4 separate regions of the Homo sapiens genome follow, and all the other regions are reported to be linked to region 3. The links are microRNA targets in miRTarBase. Many come from high-throughput screens and were not tested one by one. Region 3 holds a microRNA gene; each other region holds the end of a gene's coding sequence.

Region 1 (5,000 bases), not on the chromosome of region 3:
TAGGAGACTGCTCCATCATTCTCAGCACATAGGGTGCACATCTCACTATCTCTGGCATGAACCAGCCTTGCGAACTTATACAGTCTCAGCCACTCTGCTTTGATGGTAATTCTTCACCACTGATCTCTCCTCACCATGCCCTTCCTGCATCCTTCCCCCAACCACCCACCAGAGGAGTTCTGGTCCCCAAACCAAAGAGTTGCCTGCAGGTTGGTAATGTGACTTTGTAGATATTCCTTGATTAAAGCCAGACCCTATTGGTATCCTTTTTGAAGTACTGGATCGAAATCTAATTGCTTTTTTTTTTAATTGTTGGGGAGAGGAGGATGAGCAGAACTCCTATGCAGCCTGAGAGAAGTTCTCTATGTGTCTGTATATGTACACCTCTGTGTGTGTGTGTGTAACCTCATGGTTGTGCTCAGGCTGACAGGGAGGGCAAAGAGTGAAAAGGAAGCATCTCTTTCTTGTTATCCAACATTGCTTCAAAGATGCCCAACCCCCGTAGTAGCAGGCAGTTCCCAAGTGGAGGGTCGGGGCAGAGGCCTCCACCAAGGCCATCAATAACCAGGTGTGAGCTACAGGTCTCTGTGTAATGTGAAGCTCTCCCGTATTTCATTTCTGCACCCAGGGGGCGGCTCTGCAGGATTGCTTACGGAGAACTCTGTGTCTGGCACCTCTCTCCACAAGGCCCAGGCGCCCAGGGTCCCACCGACCTGCCCAGGAATGCATCACATTGTTCTCTGGTGCTGTAATTTGGCTGCAGGAGCTAGGCTGAATGCCTCCCAGGGATGAGAAACATACTCTCCCTGGCGTCCTCCCTTCGCCCCAGCTAGCTTGAGCTTCTGCCCTATGACCACTGAGTGCATTTAAATAAAAACCTCAGAAAGACTGAGGAAAAAAAAATCCTAATTATCTCTCTTCTGTTAAGCCATGTAGAGACTCGTGTCCTGAGTGGGTCTGAGAATTTGGCAAAGACTTACTGGTTGGTGTTCTTGATAAGGGAAGTGAGACAAAGGAGAAGAAATTACTCCCTGCAACAGGAGGAATAGAAATGAAGCAGTGAGTGTTCAGAAATTAGATCTACAAGAAGTTTTGCAAACAGACCCTCAGGGCCAGGCAATGTTTGTTTTTGTTTTTTGTTTTTTGTTTTTTTTTTTAATCTGAAGCCCCTGATTTTATTTTTCCAGCATCACTCTAAGGAAGAGTGTGGATTAGTGCCATTATTCAGGGCTGGTATTAATAAAAGTTAGCTTTTATCTGCAGGGCTAGGTTAAGGCTGGCATTCTTACTTTTACATTAAAAAAACTGGCTACAGGCTGCGCAGCTGAGGTACTTCAGTCATGTGCCTTCTCTAAAGGATTCTTAGATCCTTAAAATATATAGTATGTTTTAAGTTTGTATCTAAATAGCACTTACTGTAATGTATTATACCTAAATGTTTATTAAAAGTTAGAAGAAATGAGTACCAACAGGAAGGAATGGAAGAGAGGAGAGGGGCTAAGACATTGCTGATCTGAGGGACAGACCTCTATCAAATAGAAGAGGGCTGGGAGAAGGGGTGATTAGAAGCAGAGTGAGGGAACTAAATGGAGCCCTGACTGCACCAAATAAAGTTCTCATTTTGCTGCTTGTTCCAAATAAATTAGTGTCTATTTGTGTAATGCAGACTAAATGCCAGTTGTGTAAAGCCAATCAATGCAGAAGCAAGCTAAGAACTAGGAGGAAAAATTAATTGCTTGGCCATCATTCCTTTTGGGACCACATAACCTCCGTGGTGGGGCTCAAATGGACATCATTTCTCTCTTATGCACCTCTCTTTTCAAACTTCTCACTCTCTGGACAGCTTGCTCTTTTCTTAACCATTTATAGGAAATTGCAAAACTTGCATCTTTATGAGCTAGAATTTGGAGCCCAAGGAAAAGCACAGAGTAGCATGAGATGCCAGAAGAGGCCCATTTCCTTCCACAGGGATGAGAACCAAAAACCAAAGAATAGAGAGTAGGGTATAGGTAGATTTAAGTCAGGTTGACGTCCTATGGAAGGCATATGCCATTATTTATGTGGTAACCTGCATGTTCTTGTGAGAACAGGGGCTGGCCAGGACCTGAGGCTTTCCCCAGCAGCCTGGCATATAATATAAGGCAGCTTCCTTTGGTAAATTCATTCAGCCCTATTGTTGAGTTCAGACTGACCATGACCCCCTTACCTCTCCACTACCCCAAAGCTTTCCTCAAGATGTCAGCTGTTCTCTTCCCCTCCCATTTCCCCCTCCTTAATCCCACCATTGGCTCATCAGTTATCCAGTTGACTCCATTCTGAAGGAAGACATTCTCTTGGCCTGACTCACTCAGGCCCATTTCTCCACAGGCATCCCCTTACCGCAGACCACAAGGGCCCTGACTAGCTCATGTTTTGTGTTAATGGATGTGAAACCAGAGCAAATCCCCTCACCAAAAGAAAAACCACCCTAAACTCTCCCACACAGGTCTCAGCAGGTTACACAAATATTAGTCCTATCATCCAAATAAATCTGCCCCCGTGGCCCAGAGCTATGGCTCCCCCAACCTCCTGCTGCCTGTGCAGAGTGAAGCTGCTTCAAAAACATGAGGACCCCAAGGGATATTGGAGAGGAACTTTGGAAAGACAGGGGCCTGTATCCAGAATTCTTTATGCAGGCTCCTTAATCTACAGACTTTTGTTAATACTTTATAGTCCTAAAGAAGGACTGTTCCTAGAGAAGTCATGATGGGCTAGACCAGCCAGGGGCTTTGGTGAAGAGGATCTGCGGGCTGGAGTTTGGTGCATAATTAAAACTCAGCGTCTGACAGCTGGGCACAGTGGCTTGCGCTTGTACGCCCAGCACTTTGGAAGGCTGCAGTGGGAGGATTGCTTGAGACCAAGAATTCAAGACCAGCCTGGGCAACATAGTGAGCTCCATCTCTGAAAACTATGTTTAAATTAGCTGGGCATGATGGCATGGCCCTGTAGTCCCAGCTAATGGGGAGGCTGAGGTGGGAGGATTGCTTGAGCCTGGGAATTTGAGGCTGCAGTGAGCCATGATCATGCCAGTGCACTCCAGCCTGGGCAACAAAGCGAGACCCTATCTCTAAAAGAAATAAAAAGAAAGAAAAAAAAGAACAGGTACGTATCCTCATTTTACAGATGAGAAAATAGAAGCTCAGAAAATTTAGCTACCTTGCTCAAAATATCAAAGCAAATGGCACAGCTGTGATTTTTAACCCGGGTCTGTCATAACCGCAAATTTCTATACCACTCTGCTGCTTTAAGATATCAACAGGCAAAAGATAACCACTGTCCAACTCACATAAAAATAGGACATCAAGTTTTGGGGGACTTCATGTCCTACCTCCAGCTTACTAAGCCTGCTATCTCTGGAGATTCCACTACTGCAAACCTAGTTAGGCAATGGGTAATAGCATTACCCATTAAGCCAAATGTGGAGTGAACAATAATAATAATCACTAGGACTTGGAGAGTCACTAAATAAAGATTTGTTGAGTAAGTGGAGGAAGGCTGCCTTCTAAGCTGTGTATCACTTTGGCCCCAACCTGCAGTACTCCTTCCCACTGTAGCCACTGACTCCTGCTCCCAGCTTCAAAGGCTAGGATCCTCTCATAAAGAATTACCAAAGCCAGAGATCCCTACCTGCCTAATATATACTGATGCCTCATGTGGGCCCTTGAGATCAGACCTGCTTACCTGCTCTCCCACCATCCATGAGTTGCCTATCTTTCTTTTACTCCATGTCTCCCCAAACCTGGCAAACCTCCAGAATAGTGCATGGGAAGAGAAGAAAAGAAAAGAAAAAAAAAAAAAAAAAAAAGGCAACACAAGGCCTAGCCAGACTTACTACATTAATCTATCCTAGGAGTGTTCTAGGGTGTTTTAATGATTTGTTAAGCATGGGAACCACTGCATTCCACCTCAGTTTGAACAGGCAGCAAGTAAGCAAAAGAGGCAGTGCTGTCCAATACAGGTTGAGAATGGTAGAGAGAAAAAGAGAGAATGAATGTGTGTTTGTATTGTTATGATTCTTTTTCTTCTACAAAACACAGTTTATAAACATATGAGCATGTGAATGGAACCTTGTCCACTATGGCTAACATCTCAGGCTCTCAATAATAGAATGTGGTAGCCTAAGATTTTCTTTCGGGGTACCAGGTAGTTCTGCTCAAACGGACTTCAGAGAAGGGACATGCCATTCATCTTTGTCCCATCTAACTTTGGCCAGGTAGAAACAAAAAGAAGCTCTCTACAGGTACCCTTCCTCTTGCACACCAAGAAGTATCGGGAAGCTGGTGCAAAGGAAAGAAAAAAGGAGCCTCAACTACGTACTTTAGTGCAACTCATTTCACTCTAAAGACCCCCTATCTCTTCTACTCTCCCTTCAAATCTCCAGAGCGGGAAATCAGGGAGCTTGCTCAGTTTCTTATATCCCCTGACAACTCCTTCCCAGGGCTAAGGAACCAGCCAGGACACCATGGTCCCTATGGATTACTCTCTACATCCTTAAATAGAAGCGGTAGCAGCCCAGGGTGGAGGGTGGAGGAAGGTGTGCATGCAAGGATCTTGTGCTTTTGAGTTGAGAGGCTTGAATTGGAGGGATGAGTGAGGTATCTGTGTGTTCAGGTTTGGTCCAGCCACTCTGCCTTCTTGGGGGCTTTGCAAGTATGGACGTCCACAGTATTTCTGCATTCCTTGCACCGTACAGCACAGCACCAGTGGAATTTGCACTCACACTGGGTAACACGGGTGACTCGAGTTGTGTCGTACCCTCGGCCACAGCACATGATTTCACAACCGTCTGTTCCTTTTGATGTCTTGCTGCAGACACGGCCTGCAGTGCCTAGGGAACCTGGGTTGGGGAAGAGAGGGAGTGAGAACAAAGTTATCTCTTCAGCTGCCCTGGATACCCTTAACCACATTCTCAGAAGGAAGATAAAAAGAATCGCTTTTTTGGGCTGGGCACAGTGGCTCAC
Region 2 (5,423 bases), not on the chromosome of region 3:
ACAGGCATGAGTCACCGTGTCCGGCCCAGGGAGTCATATTTTTCACTGAAGGTTTTCTGTGGTCAGAACTGGGATACATACTGACCCATCAGCTATAACAAGTAAACAGGAACCAGATTGCCAAGAAGAAGGTTGGCAAACTATGGCCCATAGGTCAAATCTGGCCTGCCACATGTTTTTGTAAATAAAATCTTATTGTAACACTGCCACTATTATTCATTTTTGTATTGTCTATAGGTGGTGTCATGCTACTGTGGCAGACTTGTGTGACCATGGCCCACAGAAAACCTAAACTGCTTACTGTCTGGCCCTTTACAGGGTACGTCTGTGGACCTCTGGCTTAGACCAATTATGTTCACCCTCTGGGTTGGTGATGTGGCTGCCCAAACAAAACTGGGTTTAGTTAGCAAGAATGGGAAGCAAAATAGCTACAGGGTAGGTGACAATATCCTTCCACAAAATATCAGTTGTAATTTTTCCAATAGACTAAAATAAATACCTATTAATAATAAGAGCTTAAGGCTGCACGCGGTGGCTCACGTCTGTAATCCCAGCACTTTGGGAGGCCGAGGCAGGAGGATTGCTTGAGCTCAGGAGTTCAAGACCAGCCTGGGTGACATGGCAAAATCTTGTCTCTACAACAAAATAATAATAAACAAAGAATAAAAGCTGAAGTTTGTCTTCAACTCTGGCCGTATGCCCCTGGGCTACCCAGGGTGCACTGTGGTCCATGATTTATTGAAAATTCACCTTTCTTCCTGACAGGTCTGTGTGTCATGATTGCGGCCTCCATTTATACAGACAGGCGTGAAGACATTCACGACAAAAACGCGAAATTCTATCCCGTGACCAGAGAAGGCAGCTACGGCTACTCCTACATCCTGGCGTGGGTGGCCTTCGCCTGCACCTTCATCAGCGGCATGATGTACCTGATACTGAGGAAGCGCAAATAGAGTTCCGGAGCTGGGTTGCTTCTGCTGCAGTACAGAATCCACATTCAGATAACCATTTTGTATATAATCATTATTTTTTGAGGTTTTTCTAGCAAACGTATTGTTTCCTTTAAAAGCCAAAAAAAAAAAAAAAAAAAAAAAAAAAAGAAAAAAGAAAAAAAAAATCCAAAAGAGAGAAGAGTTTTTGCATTCTTGAGATCAGAGAATAGACTATGAAGGCTGGTATTCAGAACTGCTGCCCACTCAAAAGTCTCAACAAGACACAAGCAAAAATCCAGCAATGCTCAAATCCAAAAGCACTCGGCAGGACATTTCTTAACCATGGGGCTGTGATGGGAGGAGAGGAGAGGCTGGGAAAGCCGGGTCTCTGGGGACGTGCTTCCTATGGGTTTCAGCTGGCCCAAGCCCCTCCCGAATCTCTCTGCTAGTGGTGGGTGGAAGAGGGTGAGGTGGGGTATAGGAGAAGAATGACAGCTTCCTGAGAGGTTTCACCCAAGTTCCAAGTGAGAAGCAGGTGTAGTCCCTGGCATTCTGTCTGTATCCAAACCAGAGCCCAGCCATCCCTCCGGTATCGGGGTGGGTCAGAAAAAGTCTCACCTCAATTTGCCGACAGTGTCACCTGCTTGCCTTAGGAATGGTCATCCTTAACCTGCGTGCCAGATTTAGACTCGTCTTTAGGCAAAACCTACAGCGCCCCCCCCCTCACCCCAGACCTACAGAATCAGAGTCTTCAAGGGATGGGGCCAGGGAATCTGCATTTCTAACGCGCTCCCTGGGCAACGCTTCAGATGCGTTGAAGTTGGGGACCACGGTGCCTGGGCCAGGTCAGCAGAGCTGCCTCGTAAATGCTGGGGTATCGTCATGTGGAGATGGGGAGGTGAATGCAACCCCCACAGCAGGCCAAAACCTTGGCCTCCATCGCCACAGCTGTCTACATCTAGGGCCCCAAAACTCCATTCCTGAGCCATGTGAACTCATAGACACCTTCAGGGTGTGGGGTACAGCCTCCTTCCCATCTTATCCCAGAAGGCCTCTCCCTTCTTGTCCAGCCCTTCATGCTACACCTGGCTGGCCTCTCACCCCTATTTCTAGAGCCTCAGAGGACCCATCCACCATTCATTCATTCATTCATTCATTCATTCATTCATTCATTCATCAACATAAATCATAACTTGCATGCATGTGCCAGGCACAGGGGATACCCTCTAGAGACAATCTCCTCCTAGGGCTCATGGCCTAGTGGAGGAGACAGATTAAAACTTAATTAGAAAAACTGGCTGGGTACAGTGGCTCATGCTTGTAATCCCAGCACTTTGGGAGGCTGAGGCGGGTGGATCACCTGAGGTCAGGAGTTCAAGACCAGCCTGGCCAAAATGGTAAAACCTGTCTCTACTAAAAATACAAAAATGAGCTGGGCGTGGTGGTGCATGCCTGTAATCCCAGCTATCAGGTGGCTGAGGCAGGAGAATCACTTGAAATGGGAGGTGGAGGTTGCAGTGAGCCGAGACCGTGCCACTGCACTCCAGCCTGGGTGACAGAGTGAGACTCCATCTCAAAAAAAGAAAAAAAAGAAAAGAAACTAATTACACACTGTGATGGAGGCTGCAAAGAACACCACTAAGAATTCAAAATCAGCTGGGTGCGGTGGCTCACACCTGTAATCCCAGCACTTTGGGAGGCTGAGGCAGGTGGATCACAAGGTCAGGAGTTCAAGACCAGCCTGGCCAACATGGTGAAACCCCGTCTCTACCGAAAATACAACAAAATTAGCCCGGTGTGGTGGCAGGTGCCTGTAATCCCAGCTACTTAGGAGGCTGAGGCAGGAGAATCGCTTGAAACTGGGAGGCGGAGGTCGCAGTGAGCCGAGATTCACCACTGCACTCCAGCCCAGGCGACAGTCTGAGACTCCGTCTCAAAAATAAAACGATTCAAAATCGAGGCCTGTGGCATGGTAGGGAGGCTGCTTTACGCGTGCCTATTATTAAATGCTCCTGGAGGCATTTAGGTATTTAGATCAGTCTAAATATAGCTCCATTCAGTTCGTGCAGATGACAGTTATTGGGCAGTACCTGTCTGTGTAACACCCAGAAAACATGTCTGTGGAGGGGCCCATGGTCCCGACAGTAAATGCGGTGAGAGGGTCCCATAGAGCTGGAGTTTTCAAGCTTTAGGGGTTCCCGTGCTGCTTGGGACAGGCTGATTCAGAGGGTCTGGGTGAATGATTTCCAGGTGATTTTAAGACTGTGCTGAGAAATAGGGCTTTTGGGGCCTTGTCCTTCAGGATCAAAGCATGATGCTGTGTGGCAATGCAGACCACCCAGGAACCATCCCAGGAGATAAGCTCTTTGCACCTCATTGTCTTTTTCTGCTTATGTTGGAGCAGGATGCTGGGGGCTGTCCTGGGATGGGGTGTGGGACCTCGTGCTATTTAAATACTTTTGCACTTGACCTTCTGCTGAGTGGAGTGGTGGTTTGCCATCAGCTCAGTTCCAGTGGAGCTGAAGAGACATCTGGTTTGAGTAGTTTTAGGGCCACCATGGATATCTCTTCAATGCAGGATTGGCTCTTTCCATCTGCTCTTTCATTCATTTGTTTTTGACAGATAGTATTAAATGTTTACCATGTTCCAGGCACTGTGTGAGGCTCTGAAAATACAGGGGTGAGCAAATCCAGATATCCTCCCTGCCATCATGAAGTTTGGAGTCTATGAGATAGGACCCCCTCCCTATGGAGAAGCCACCAATGCAGTACAGGGTGACCTGGGGCCAGAGACAGGACAAATGTCACCTCCTGCCTCCATGAGATACTCTCACTAGTCATATTGTGGGCAAGAATGTGGCTTACACCCCTAGGGTTAACAGGATGCTACCCAAGCTCATGGAGGAAGTTGAATCTTAAGTTCCCTTGAAACTTTCTACCTTGGTGGCTTTTCTATAATTTTCTTTTTTCTTTTTCTTTTTTTTTTTTTTTTTTGAGACTGAGTTTTGCTCTTGTTGCCCAGGCTGGAGTGCAGTGGCACCATCTTGGCTCACCGCAACCTCTGCCTCCTGGGTTCAAGTGATTCTCCTGCCTCAGCCTCCCGAGTAGCTGGGATTACAGGCATGTCCCACCATGCCCAGCTAATTTTTGTATTTTTAGTAGAGATGGGGTTTCTCCATGTTGGTCAGGCTGGTTTCGAACTCCCAACCTCAGGTGATCCGCCCACCTCAGCCTTCCAAAGTGCTGGGATTACAGGCATGAGCCACTGCGTCTGGCCTTCTATAATTTTCTGGTAGTCACGATGGAAACAAACAAAACACCTTAGAACCAGAGATCGACCCCCTCAAGCAATACATCAATTCCCTTCACAAGAAACGTCGGGGCTACATGAGTATCTGTGTTGAATGCGGTCTGAAATGATCCTATGGATTTTCCCGGCTGGTTGCCACTGCTGTACAACATTCAGTGCCCACATCCACCTGTGCCATTAAGCTTTTTTGAGACATGAGAGATGCCTCTTCCCTGCTGTATGACATGCATTTGGGAAGTTGGAAAGAAATGACAAAATCAGGGAGAAAACATCCAAGCTTCTTACCTGTAGATAGAATCAGCCCTCACTTGGTGCTTATTACCAGTTATTCAAGAACAATAACAACAACAAAATTAGTAGACATCCAAGAAGCACATATTAGGACCAAAGATAGCATCAACTGTATTTGAAGGAACTGTAGTTTGCGCATTTTATGACATTTTTATAAAGTACTGTAATTCTTTCATTGAGGGGCTATGTGATGGAGACAGACTAACTCATTTTGTTATTTGCATTAAAATTATTTTGGGTCTCTGTTCAAATGAGTTTGGAGAATGCTTGACTTGTTGGTCTGTGTGAATGTGTATATATATATACCTGAATACAGGAACATCGGAGACCTATTCACTCCCACACACTCTGCTATAGTTTGCGTGCTTTTGTGGACACCCCTCATGAACAGGCTGGCGCTCTAGGACGCTCTGTGTTCACTGATGATGAAGAAACCTAGAACTCCAAGCCTGTTTGTAAACACACTAAACACAGTGGCCTAGATAGAAACTGTATCGTAGTTTAAAATCTGCCTCGCGGGATGTTACTAAACTCGCTAATAGTTTAAAGGTTACTTACAATAGAGCAAGTTGGACAATTTTGTGGTGTTGGGGAAATGTTAGGGCAAGGCCTAGAGGTTCATTTTGAATCTTGGTTTGTGACTTTAGGGTAGTTAGAAACTTTCTACTTAATGTACCTTTAAAATAGTCCATTTTCTATGTTTTGTATAATCTGAAACTGTACATGGAAAATAAAGTTTAAAACCAGATTGCCCAGAGCAAGACTCTAATGTTCCCAACGGTGATGACATCTAGGGCAGAATGCTGCCATTTTGAGGGGCAGGGGGTCAGCTGATTTCTCATCAAGATAATAATGTATGGTTTTTACACTAAGCAACTGATAAATGGACA
Region 3 (5,359 bases):
GGGGAGGGCCAAAGGACAGGGGTGATGGAAGGTGGGGGGCAGAGAGGTCTAGAGAAAGTGGCACAGGTGGGGACATCAAGGAAACAGAAACTTCTGGGACTGGAGGAAAGGGTAGGCCAGGGAGGAAGAGAAGGTAGCAGAGTCTCCTCCCCTCTGTAGCCCTTTCCCTCAACTCCACACTCCTTTCTAGGTAACAACTTCATCAGGAACAAAATGCTTTGCCTGTCGGTCTGCGGCCGAAAGAGACAAATGGATTGAGAATCTGCAGCGGGCAGTAAAGCCCAACAAGGTATTGGGGAATAAAGGGGACACAACCTGTGCAGGGCAAAGGTTGCACCAACACGGGAAGCTGGGGGCCTAGGGAGGAAAGTGAGTTAAAGGAGGAGAGGCTTGGGGAAGGAGAGGATTGAGGTACAGTGTATCTGGACAAGCAGGGGGAGACCCCCATTATTCTGAGTCCCCCATTTCTTTTCGCTTTCTGTACTGCTACCCTGCCTTACGATCTCTTTCCCTGCCATAGAAGTCATAGACTTACAGAGTTGATGGGGCTCTGGAAATTCTTTAGTCTAGCTTCCCTGCAGGCAGGAATGCTTCACTAATACCCCGCAGGACACATCAAATACACTTAGCCAAGTTTCTGTACCTTGGTTTCCTCTCTAAGACAGAGGGAACTGGTGGCAATGGGTTGGATTAAATGATCTCTAAGGTCCCTTTGGCACATAAATTCTATGAGTCTGTTCTTCCCAAAACTTCATGCTTCCAGTTCTGTCAGCTATTCTCTGTATCCCAGTTTCTAGCAAGCTTACAGTCCTAGTCACACTCCTCTGGGGGGAACTCTTGTGTCTTGATGTCCTTAAAGAACTCAACCCAAGATGCTGACATGATCTGACCTATGCAGAGTACAAACACCATGTTCCCTTTCAACACACTGCAATATCACCTGAGCCTTACCATTAGCTTGTGCTCAATTGTATCCCCCCAGGCCCTTACTGATTCTTTTTTTTTTTTTTTTGAGACAGAGTCTCACTCTGTCACCCAGGCTGGAGTGCAGTGGCGTGATCTTGGCTCACTGCAACCTCCGCCTCCTGGGTTTAAGCAATTCCTGTGCCTCAGCCTCCCCAGTAGCTGGGATTACAGGCATGCACCACCACACCCGACTAATTTTTGTATTTTTAGTAGAGACGAGGTTTCACCATGTTGGCCAGGCTAGTCTCAAACTCCTGACCTCAGGTTGTCTGCCTGCCTCAGCCTCCCAAAGTGCTAGGATTACAGGCATGAGCCACCACATCTGGCCAAGCTTTACCCATTCTATATGCAATTCTTTTTTCACAATTTCTGATAGTCTCTGCAGGACTTTCCAGTTCCCTTCAAATTCTACATTAATATTTTTGGCTTGTTATTCCAGCTTTTGAAATCTTTCCAATACTGTTTGTGTTGTCTAGTGTATGTCTACGCTTCTACAGTAGCTTCCTGGGGCTGCTATAACAAACTGCTACAAACTGGGTCACGTAAAACAACAGAAATTTATTCTCTCACAGTTCAGGAGGCTGGAAGTCCAAAAGCAAGGTATCAGCAGGGCCACGCTCTCTTTGATGCTGTAGCAGGGAATCCTTCCTTGCCTCTTCCTAGCTTCCGGAGGTTGCCAGCAGTCCTTGGCATTCCTGGGCTTATAACTGCATCCGTCTAATTTCTGCCTCCATCTTCATGTAGCTGGCTTCCTTCTGTGTGTCTCTGTATCCTGTATCTCTGTGTCTCCAAATCTCCCTCTCCATATAAAGACACCAGTTTTTATAAGGTGGGTTAAGGGTCCACTCTAATTCAGTATGGCCTCTTTTTTTTGAGATGGAATATCGCTCTTGTTTCCCAGGCTTGGAGTGCAATGGCATGAGCTCAGCTCACTGCAACCTCCGCCTTCCAGGTTCAAGTGATTCTCCTGCCTCAGCCTCCTGAGTAGCTGGGATTACAGGCACGTGCCACTATGCCCAGCTAATTTGTTTTTGTATTTTTATTAGAGACGGGGTTTCACTATGTTGGCCAGGCTGGCTCGAACTCCTGACCTCAGGCAATCCACCCACCTCGGCCTCCCAAAGTGCTGGGATTACAGGAATGAGATACCATGGCTGGCCTCTTCTTAGTTTGATTACATTTGCAGGGATCCTGTTTCCAAATAAGATCACATTCACAGGTTCAGGGTAGACATGAGTTTTGGTGGGATACTATTCAACCCAGTACACCGTCTCACCTTATGATTGCTGTCTGTATCCCACTTTCTTACTGTCTCTCCTCTTTTGGTGTCTCTCTGTCCCTTCCCCCTTTAACATCATGCCCACCCCACCATGCCAGGACAACAGCCGCCGGGTAGACAATGTGCTAAAGCTGTGGATCATAGAGGCCCGGGAGCTGCCCCCCAAGAAGCGGTACTACTGTGAGCTCTGCCTGGATGACATGCTGTATGCACGCACCACCTCCAAGCCCCGCTCTGCCTCTGGGGACACCGTCTTCTGGGGCGAGCACTTCGAGTTTAACAACCTGCCGGCTGTCCGTGCCCTGCGGCTGCATCTGTACCGTGACTCAGACAAAAAGCGCAAGAAGGACAAGGCAGGCTATGTCGGCCTGGTGACTGTGCCAGTGGCCACCCTGGCTGGGCGCCACTTCACAGAGCAGTGGTACCCTGTAACCCTGCCAACAGGCAGTGGGGGATCTGGGGGCATGGGTTCGGGAGGGGGAGGGGGCTCGGGGGGTGGCTCAGGGGGCAAGGGCAAAGGAGGTTGCCCGGCTGTGCGGCTGAAAGCACGTTACCAGACAATGAGCATCTTGCCCATGGAGCTATATAAAGAGTTTGCAGAGTATGTCACCAACCATTATCGGATGCTGTGTGCAGTCTTGGAGCCCGCCCTGAATGTCAAAGGCAAGGAGGAGGTTGCCAGTGCACTAGTTCACATCCTGCAGAGTACAGGCAAGGCCAAGGTGAGTGTTGTGCCCTCAGGGAAAGGTGACTTGGGAATGGGCACTTGCTTGGGGGTTAGTGAGGACAGGGCAAATTCACGAGATTGGGTTGTGCAGAGGCTGACACTTGGATTTTCCTGGGCCTCAGGACTTCCTTTCAGACATGGCCATGTCTGAGGTAGACCGGTTCATGGAACGGGAGCACCTCATATTCCGCGAGAACACGCTTGCCACTAAAGCCATAGAAGAGTATATGAGACTGATTGGTCAGAAATACCTCAAGGATGCCATTGGTATGGCCCACACTCAGGCCCTCTTCTTCCCAAACCTGCCAGATGTCCACCCCAGACCCCAAGTCCACCCTTCCACAGCTTGATACTTCCTAACCCAGAGTCCTAGGACTCCAGCCTCCAACACCTGATTCTGAAATTTCCCCAACCCTGGCCACCCCCTTCCCTGCCCTTGGAAAGTGTGACCACACCCTCTTGTGCCCCCACCCCCCAGGAGAATTCATCCGTGCTCTGTATGAATCTGAGGAAAACTGCGAGGTAGACCCTATCAAGTGCACAGCATCCAGTTTGGCAGAGCACCAGGCCAACCTGCGAATGTGCTGTGAGTTGGCCCTGTGCAAGGTGGTCAACTCCCACTGGTGAGACTGGGAACGCTGGGCTGGGGGGCCAGGGTCGGGGGAATTATGTGTTCATCTGTTCATCTATCTGTCCATCCTCAAAGAGGACTGAGCACCATTTATGGGCAAAGCATTGTTCTAGGCGCTATAGAGCAAACAGGTGAAAGAGGCCTGGTCCCTGCCCTCAGAGGGCCTCCACCAGAATGGGGACAAATTAGAAGAAAAAAAAAAAAAGCCACAGAGCCATAATGGTGTGTAAGTGCTGAGTAAGGGTCCCCCCAACCTCTGTGTGACATAAGGTCAGAGAGAAGGCAGAGCTTTGAGATAAGTGGGGAAGAGGTGCCCCCTTGGGTAGGCTTTGAAGACTGGTTTAGGTTCTGATATATGGACATAGTTGGCAAGAAAGACATTTCAGAAGAAGGCTGTGAGAAAGGCACATGTGTGATGGTGAAAAGGCCCAGGAGTTTTCAGGGGACATTAAAGTAGGTTAGTAGCAATTACATCAGGTTTAGTGGAGCATGTGCCTCATAATGGGGAGTGGCGGGAGAGATGTCTGGGCAGGAAGATTAGCTTTAGAAACTGGAAGGCCTCAAGGAGTCTGAGGTCATTGGTAGGCCTTGGGATGCCATTAAAGGTGTCAGAAATATTGTGATTTAGAAGATTAATCCATAGGCTGGGCACGGTGGCTCACACCTGTAATACCAGCACTTTGGGAGGCTGAGGCGGGCAGACCACCTGAGGTCAGGAGTTTGAGACCAGGCTGACCAACATGGAGAAACCCTGTCTCTACTAAAAATACAAAATTAGCCAGATGTGGTGGCACATGCCTGTAATCCCAGCTATTCGGGAGGCTAAGGCAGGAGAATCACTTGAATCTGGGAGGTGGAGGTTGTAGTGAGCCGAGATCACACGATTGCACTCTAGCCTGGGCAACAAGAGTGAAACTCCATCTCAAAAAAAAAAAATTAATCCATAAGTAGAGTGTATGTAGTAGAGTAGAGGGATGTATGTTGGGGGATGACTGGAATAGAGCCAGCTGGGGGCTCGGAGGCATGAAAGTCAGATCCTGAATCAGAACAGTGACAGAAGTTAGGAAGGAGCTACTGGAAGGACCCTCTCGGGAAAGGATCAGTAGGAATTGTCAGCTTATTGGAAAGGAGGGAGCATGTCTGTGGGGAGTCACGGATGACTCAAGAGGCCATGAGGCTGGTGGTTGGGAGACCGGTGGCCTCATTGACAACCAGGAAAGTCAGGAGGAGGAGCCAGTTGGAGGTGTGGGGGCGATGGTGAGCTCTGCTTTACACCAGCCGAGTTTAAGGTGTCAGTGGGACATTGAAGTGGAACTGGGAGGTGCGGGGAGTGAGCTCTGAGCCATTCCAGGGACTGGGGATCATGCCTGGGGCACCTCCATCCCCATTTCCCTGGAATCCAGAAGAGTTGGGGGGTCCGAGCTCCCTGTACCTCAAGTGACCCTCCATCTCTCTCCCATCTCTGTCTCTCCCTGGTGTCTGTTTTTCTTCTCCTCCTCTCCTTGTCTCTCTCCCACACCCCTCCATCTCTCTCCCACGTGTCTCTCCCCTCACCTTCTCTCCCCCTCCATTTCTCTCTCCCTAATCTGTCTGTTCCCTCTGCCATGGCCCCCTTCTTCAAGCAGCCTCCCATCTTGCTCCTGCGGTCCCTCCTTCCCTGTCTCTCTCACCCCTGTTTCCACACCCTCACCTCCTACCACCCCCCTCAGCATGTTCCCTGGAAGCTGAGGGTCTCTGGGGCTCAGTCCCGGTCTCT
Region 4 (5,423 bases), not on the chromosome of region 3:
CCAAAGGGATTTTCATTACAAGATTTCAGTACATTTAACAAAACTCAAATATTTCTGGTTGTATCTTATTCTTTTAGGGCTTTTCCAAAAGGCCTTACAATTAAATGTATGCTCAAAACATCAACAACAAAATAAAAATGAACTTGGCTGAAGAGTGCTCTTCAAATTTGTTTTTAAGAGTGCTTATCTAAAGGTTGACTGGGGTGGGTTTATTTTTAATCTCCTACTCTAAAAGGATAGAAGCAGGGTAGGAGCTTGTTTAAAAAGACTCAAAAACCAAGGAAGACTGCAACAATCACCTACAGAGGTTTCTGTAAAGACTTTGTTAGACTTGGGGTGAGAAAGATTAAGCTGGTGGAGAGAGGGATAGCACACACTCCTGAAATAAGAGGAGCAAGAGGGCACATGATTATTGTCATACTTGATGCCCTAAAATTGCTCTTCAAATAATAAGGCACTGACCAAATTTTCTCCCCACTATAACCTGAAACATAGGTGTAATCAAATTGCTTTCAATAAGCAAAAGAGTTTTTATGCCTGGATCTCTTTCATTAGAACCCTCCAAATAGGGAAAAAAATGTCACTTTAGACACAAGCCATTTTTAGGGGAGCAAAATCAAAGGTACTTAAATCATTTTGAGAAGGTTCACATGGAAAGTAATTCATCATCAATGTGATTAAATAGCAATATTTGTATCTCAAAGCTTAGAAAAAACAGAATACCACTTTGGCTGTAAAATCATATATTTACTATGTTTGAAAGAAATAATACAAAAAAGAGAGGAAAATAAAAGCAAACCCTAAAAGGTCACTAAAGAAGTCATACCAACCTCATCACTTGCTTTGTATCATCTATTCATGCAACAGCAGTACTATTACTCCACCTGGACACAGTTAAACTCATCTTCCTTTTCAAAAAGGGATCCAATTATTTCAAAAACCTTTGAAGCAGAGGATTTGCTTTATTAAAGATTATCTTCTGTTAGGCAACACTGGCACCCCTTGTTTGCAGAAGATGATTACGTGGTGGTTTAAACACTGGTTGTAAAGGAATGTGCCTCAAAAAAACAGGAAGGAAATCAATACCAGATCTATTCATTTAAAAAGCTAATGGATGGAACCCATTACTATTGATTTTCAATTAGTATGATGCCCTATAGTTTTGTTTTCAGTAGTAAAGGTATACAGTTTACGATTTAACCTTAAAAAGAAATAAAAGACTTATGCTCAAGTCATTTGGCCAAAAGATCAACAGGCTGCTCTTTGAGGGCCCCAGTTTAAGCTAATAAGGAAAGCTAGAGTCTGTAAACATGTTTTCCATTCTTTTTTCCTCCTGTACCAATAGTGCTTCCTAGGCTCCTCATAAATCTTCTAGAAGAGGAATAAAGCCACTTATACAAACTTTGCAGTTATAAACACCCTGACTTTTGATATACAGAAAGAACCAATACCAACACAGTCCACACAGAAGGTAGTGCAATAGTTACATGGCATTTTCCACACAGAAAAAAATATTTGAAATTGAAGCACATGCCTAGGGAGAAAAAAATACTGAAACTCAAATTGTTTGGATCCCTTTTTGTAATGTTTGCCCAAATAATATTTACATAGTGAAGAAAACAAAATAGGAAGGTGTGTTTGATCAGTTCTTGTTCAATTCTTACTGTCTGGAGGTAAAAATCATATTCTGAAAAACAAGCAGAGCCTGAACAGAGCGGGCACGAGGCCAAAAACAGTGCTCTGGAAGGTCATTCTGTAGTTATTTTCAACAGGCTATATAACATGCCAATCATTATGCTTATCATAAACAGGCTTAAATTGAAATTATAACTGAATTTCTAATGAGTTCTTCTTGGCTAAGGGTGAAACAAATGACCTGAATGCTGATGAACATTTTGAGTTTTTGAGTCACTTATTTACAATTGAGGGCAGGCTTAATAAGAAGATTCATCTTCCCACGAATGAACTACCTATATATTTAATATATTTTGGTAACATATTTTCTTTGAATTATTATCAGGTATTATTTGGTAAATTATAGATAAAAAATTCACCTACACTATTTTAAGTCACTTTTCTGTTTTCAATTTGCTTCAAATGCTAAAATAATCTTAAAAAGCAATGACTAATTTTCTGAATGAATAAATTTTAAAGACAGAAAAACAACGACTTCTGTGCTGTTAAGAAATTTAGTCAGTCAGAGGCCACAAGTCTATCTATAAACTATTAACCAAATTTGAACGCTATCTTACTCTACGCAAACATCCATTAATGTTTAGAGCCGAAAGTATCAAAAACATCTTCCAGCTTAGCTCTCTCCCTTTGGCAAAACTATGTGATGTCAGGCTCTGACTTCCAACTGCATATTTCCACAGATATGGTTAACCTACAACATTTCTACGTTAGCTTATTATGACAAACAAATGAAATAAAAAAAATCCACAGGGTTCTCATTCACAATACTTTTTAAAAAAGCACATACACTGTTAAAAACGCTATTTCTGAAGAGAAATAAACAAATTAAGAAATTTTTAAAAATGCAAAACAAAAGTAAGATGTGCAAGGTCTACGTAGTAATACTGCTGGCTATGTCTTTCTATTACCCAACATGGGTTAAGCTTAGAGCATTAATTGAAAAATCATTCAGGACAGGAAACTTTTGTCCTCTCCAGCCTGTGTCACTAAACCCCAGAAATAATGGTATTTCTGTTACATAAGAAGCATATTTGAACTCTTAACATCTTTTCCAAACAGAATACTAAATTAAAAAACTTAACACTCAAAAAAAGCTCTTCTCTTTTCCTTTGGATGGATTTTAAGCTAATTATTGTATAAGCAATATTTTCTATTGAAGTTTCATGGACTCAAGGGCAAAATACTTATAATAAAAAAGTATAAAATTCTCTAAGAATACGAATGTGAGAAATTTTATGTGAGGCCCAAAGTAACAGAAGTCTATTAGTAGATATCAGTCACAAAGCATTACCTTACTCTAGGCCACTGCTAAAATTCATTATGTCTCAAGAGTTTATAACATTCGACATATAGCCTTTGTTTGAGTGTCATTTTTCATTAAAATTCTAAGGCATCTTACCTTCAAACTTTTTTTTTAATAATTCAACATTTACTTTAGAAATTAAATGCATCATTGCATAGAAGAGTTCTCATAAAACTGCTTGGTCAACTACTGACAAAATACGGTTTCATGTCAGAGACCGACAGTAAATTTTCAGAAAAATGTTTTGGTATGTTTATGGTAAATCATACAAGTATAAAGTTTAGATACTTAAAATTTCCAGAATCTGATATTTTCACCTTTATCCCTCTTAAAATTATTTTGTATGTCTTATAACAAAATATATACATACATCTCTATGTGTTACCTTTTAAACAAATATGATCCTGAATCTCATATTGAACAAAAAGAGAGAAAATGAATAATAAAAAAATAACTCTGGCATTATGCACATCAAACACTGTAAAAGAAAATATCCTGACAAAATATCAGTCTGTCTTGATGATAAAAACCACCTATGACTGGGAGAAGGGAAAACCCAATTAACTTGGAAAAAGATCTAATTATTGTAAAATCTCAGAAAAGTTTAGGTTGGGATTATAGCTCTTTACTTAAGCAGATCTGTGGTCCAACAATGAATTCATATAGAAAGCTAAACTTTAACCCTAGTTAGAAACAACCATGTTTTCTGGAACCTATTTAAAAAAAAAGCGTCTGGCAAATGAACACACAGCCTTTGTACCTCCTGCAGGAAATAATGTTCCCCTTACAGTACTACATTTCAGAAGTTTAGTGTTTAAAAAAATTCTCCCCTCATCCAAAACAAAACAAACACCCCCACCCAATCCCAAACAAACCCAAGAACTCACATGACTAACATTTCTCATTCCTACACTCTTGCTGTGAGAAAGCCAGTGAGGTTGCAGACTACTAGAGGGAGAACAAACCTTGCAGGTGGGCTGCTGGTACAATCCCTGCTAAGTCTCTTCACCTCGGTTCAAAACCAGCTCCTGATGGAATCCACAAGAGTATGTTTTTCCTTTTTAAAGCATATCTAAAAAAGGCAATTCCCCCCTCTAAAATTATTACAAAGTTAAAAGAAATGCAAATTAGCTACGATCTATTCCAAGCACAGCACCGCCAGAAGATTCACACACACTATTTGGTGTTTCATGTTGGTTTTCCTTTCATTCTTTTAAGGCAGTGGTTTCCACAGGTCAGTTCTGAGATAAGAAGCATGGTTCATGGCAGTTTGTTTTGCAACTCCAATTTGTTCTCTGGGAATATCTCAAATCATTCCCTGAAATTAGTGCTTTTTTGGTTGAGAACTCCAACGACTGAGACAGAGCCTCTGGGCTCTTCCTGGCACAGGATGGTTTATAGCTGGCGCTCTTTTATCAGGTCCTCATGCTCACGTAGAAGCAACAGTTCACCTCTCTTTTTTTCTCAGGCTTCTACTCAAAAGTCATCAAGTTTGTAGGAACCTAAAAAATATAAGCATTAAAAACTGAGTTTAAAAGTTGTTTTTCAAAGGAGTATTTCTTATCTTTCCTTGTTATTTAGGCAAGCCCAATCTTTCTACTTAAGTATCTTTTAAAAGGAACTTGATATAAGGAGCTTCAATAGTTTATGAATAATTAACATGCTAGAACATTTTTGAGAGAAAATCACCAAAATGAGTTAATACTCTTTCTAGTAAAATGACATCTATACAGGAGAAGGGGTAGAGACAATATCTTTCTTGTCTAACACAGGGGGCTCAGTAGACGTTTACTGAATGAATAAATGAGAGCAAGAGTAAGTATGACTCTGGTAGGGTGAGATTCCAGATACACTTGTTTGCCATTATTTATTTTCTCATTATATATTACAAAAATTCCTAGGTGCATATTTTTAAAATCAGCAAAAATAATTTTATAACAAACATTACTAAGAATTTATTTGTAAAATCATGATTAAAATAAGTACAGAAAAACAAAATTCCTTATTAGAGTTTCACTATGTTAAAACAAATCCTCAAAACCAGTTTTCCAAAATACTGGGAGAGGTATTCATATGTCAGTGGTCTTTTCTGTCCTTAAGACAGCTCTCACAGTTTAGCAACCTCTCTCTGAAACCTATTATATGCAAAAACATAAATACCTTACAAGTGTCAGCTTCTGAATAAAAAAATTATGTTGGCCAATGTACTCATAACTGAATTACAAATCAAATACAACACAAATGCTCAAGTGCTTAAAGTATAAATTTTCAGGTCTGATTATAAGAAACTCATATTTGGCCGGGTGCGGTGGCTCACGCCTATAATCCCAGCACTTTGGGAGGCTGAGGCAGGCAGATCACCTGAGGTCAGGAGTTTAAGACCAGCCTGGCCAACATTGTGAAACTCCATCTCTACTGAAAATAC

Evidence for each region. Region 3 holds the annotated microRNA hsa-miR-5004-3p (CUUGGAUUUUCCUGGGCCUCAG, at 3,073-3,094, shown strand). A microRNA usually pairs through its seed, bases 2 to 8, with sites in the 3' UTR of a target mRNA and lowers its output. Matches are read on the target gene's strand: a 7mer-m8 pairs with bases 2 to 8, a 7mer-A1 pairs with bases 2 to 7 and ends in A, and an 8mer does both.
Region 1: miRTarBase lists WNT2B as a target of hsa-miR-5004-3p. The part of its 3' UTR that is shown has no 7-base or 8-base seed match.
Region 2: the mRNA of EMP2 is a reported target of hsa-miR-5004-3p. Seed matches in the 3' UTR shown: 8mer at 1,116-1,123, 8mer at 1,241-1,248 and 7mer-A1 at 1,493-1,499.
Region 4: miRTarBase lists RALGPS2 as a target of hsa-miR-5004-3p. Seed matches in the 3' UTR shown: 7mer-A1 at 2,804-2,810 and 7mer-A1 at 1,567-1,573.

Annotation. Positions count from the first base shown.
Region 1 is chr1:112,520,156-112,525,155 of GRCh38, reverse strand. WNT2B (Wnt family member 2B) reads right to left here. Exons shown (of 5, transcript NM_024494.3): 5 at 1-4,876. The coding sequence ends at 4,647. ST7L (suppression of tumorigenicity 7 like) reads left to right here. Exons shown (of 15, transcript NM_017744.5): 15 at 1-1,642. Among named protein-coding and RNA genes, the nearest start is that of WNT2B, 14 kb to the right of the region's middle.
Region 2 is chr16:10,528,435-10,533,857 of GRCh38, reverse strand. It overlaps EMP2 (epithelial membrane protein 2), which reads left to right. Exons shown (of 5, transcript NM_001424.6): 5 at 766-5,423. The coding sequence ends at 953. Among named protein-coding and RNA genes, the nearest start is that of LINC01290, 2.9 kb to the right of the region's middle. RefSeq lists a silencer at 1-186 and an enhancer at 1-186.
Region 3 is chr6:33,435,325-33,440,683 of GRCh38, forward strand. It overlaps MIR5004 (microRNA 5004), which reads left to right and starts at 3,007; the gene lies at 3,007-3,113. It overlaps SYNGAP1 (synaptic Ras GTPase activating protein 1), which reads left to right. Exons shown (of 19, transcript NM_006772.3): 7 at 191-289; 8 at 2,344-2,967; 9 at 3,095-3,239; 10 at 3,451-3,595. SYNGAP1-AS1 (SYNGAP1 antisense RNA 1) reads right to left here. Exons shown (of 3, transcript NR_174954.1): 3 at 2,039-2,157. RefSeq lists a silencer at 2,529-2,706.
Region 4 is chr1:178,915,407-178,920,829 of GRCh38, reverse strand. RALGPS2 (Ral GEF with PH domain and SH3 binding motif 2) reads right to left here. Exons shown (of 20, transcript NM_152663.5): 20 at 1-4,500. The coding sequence ends at 4,471. Among named protein-coding and RNA genes, the nearest start is that of ANGPTL1, 47 kb to the right of the region's middle.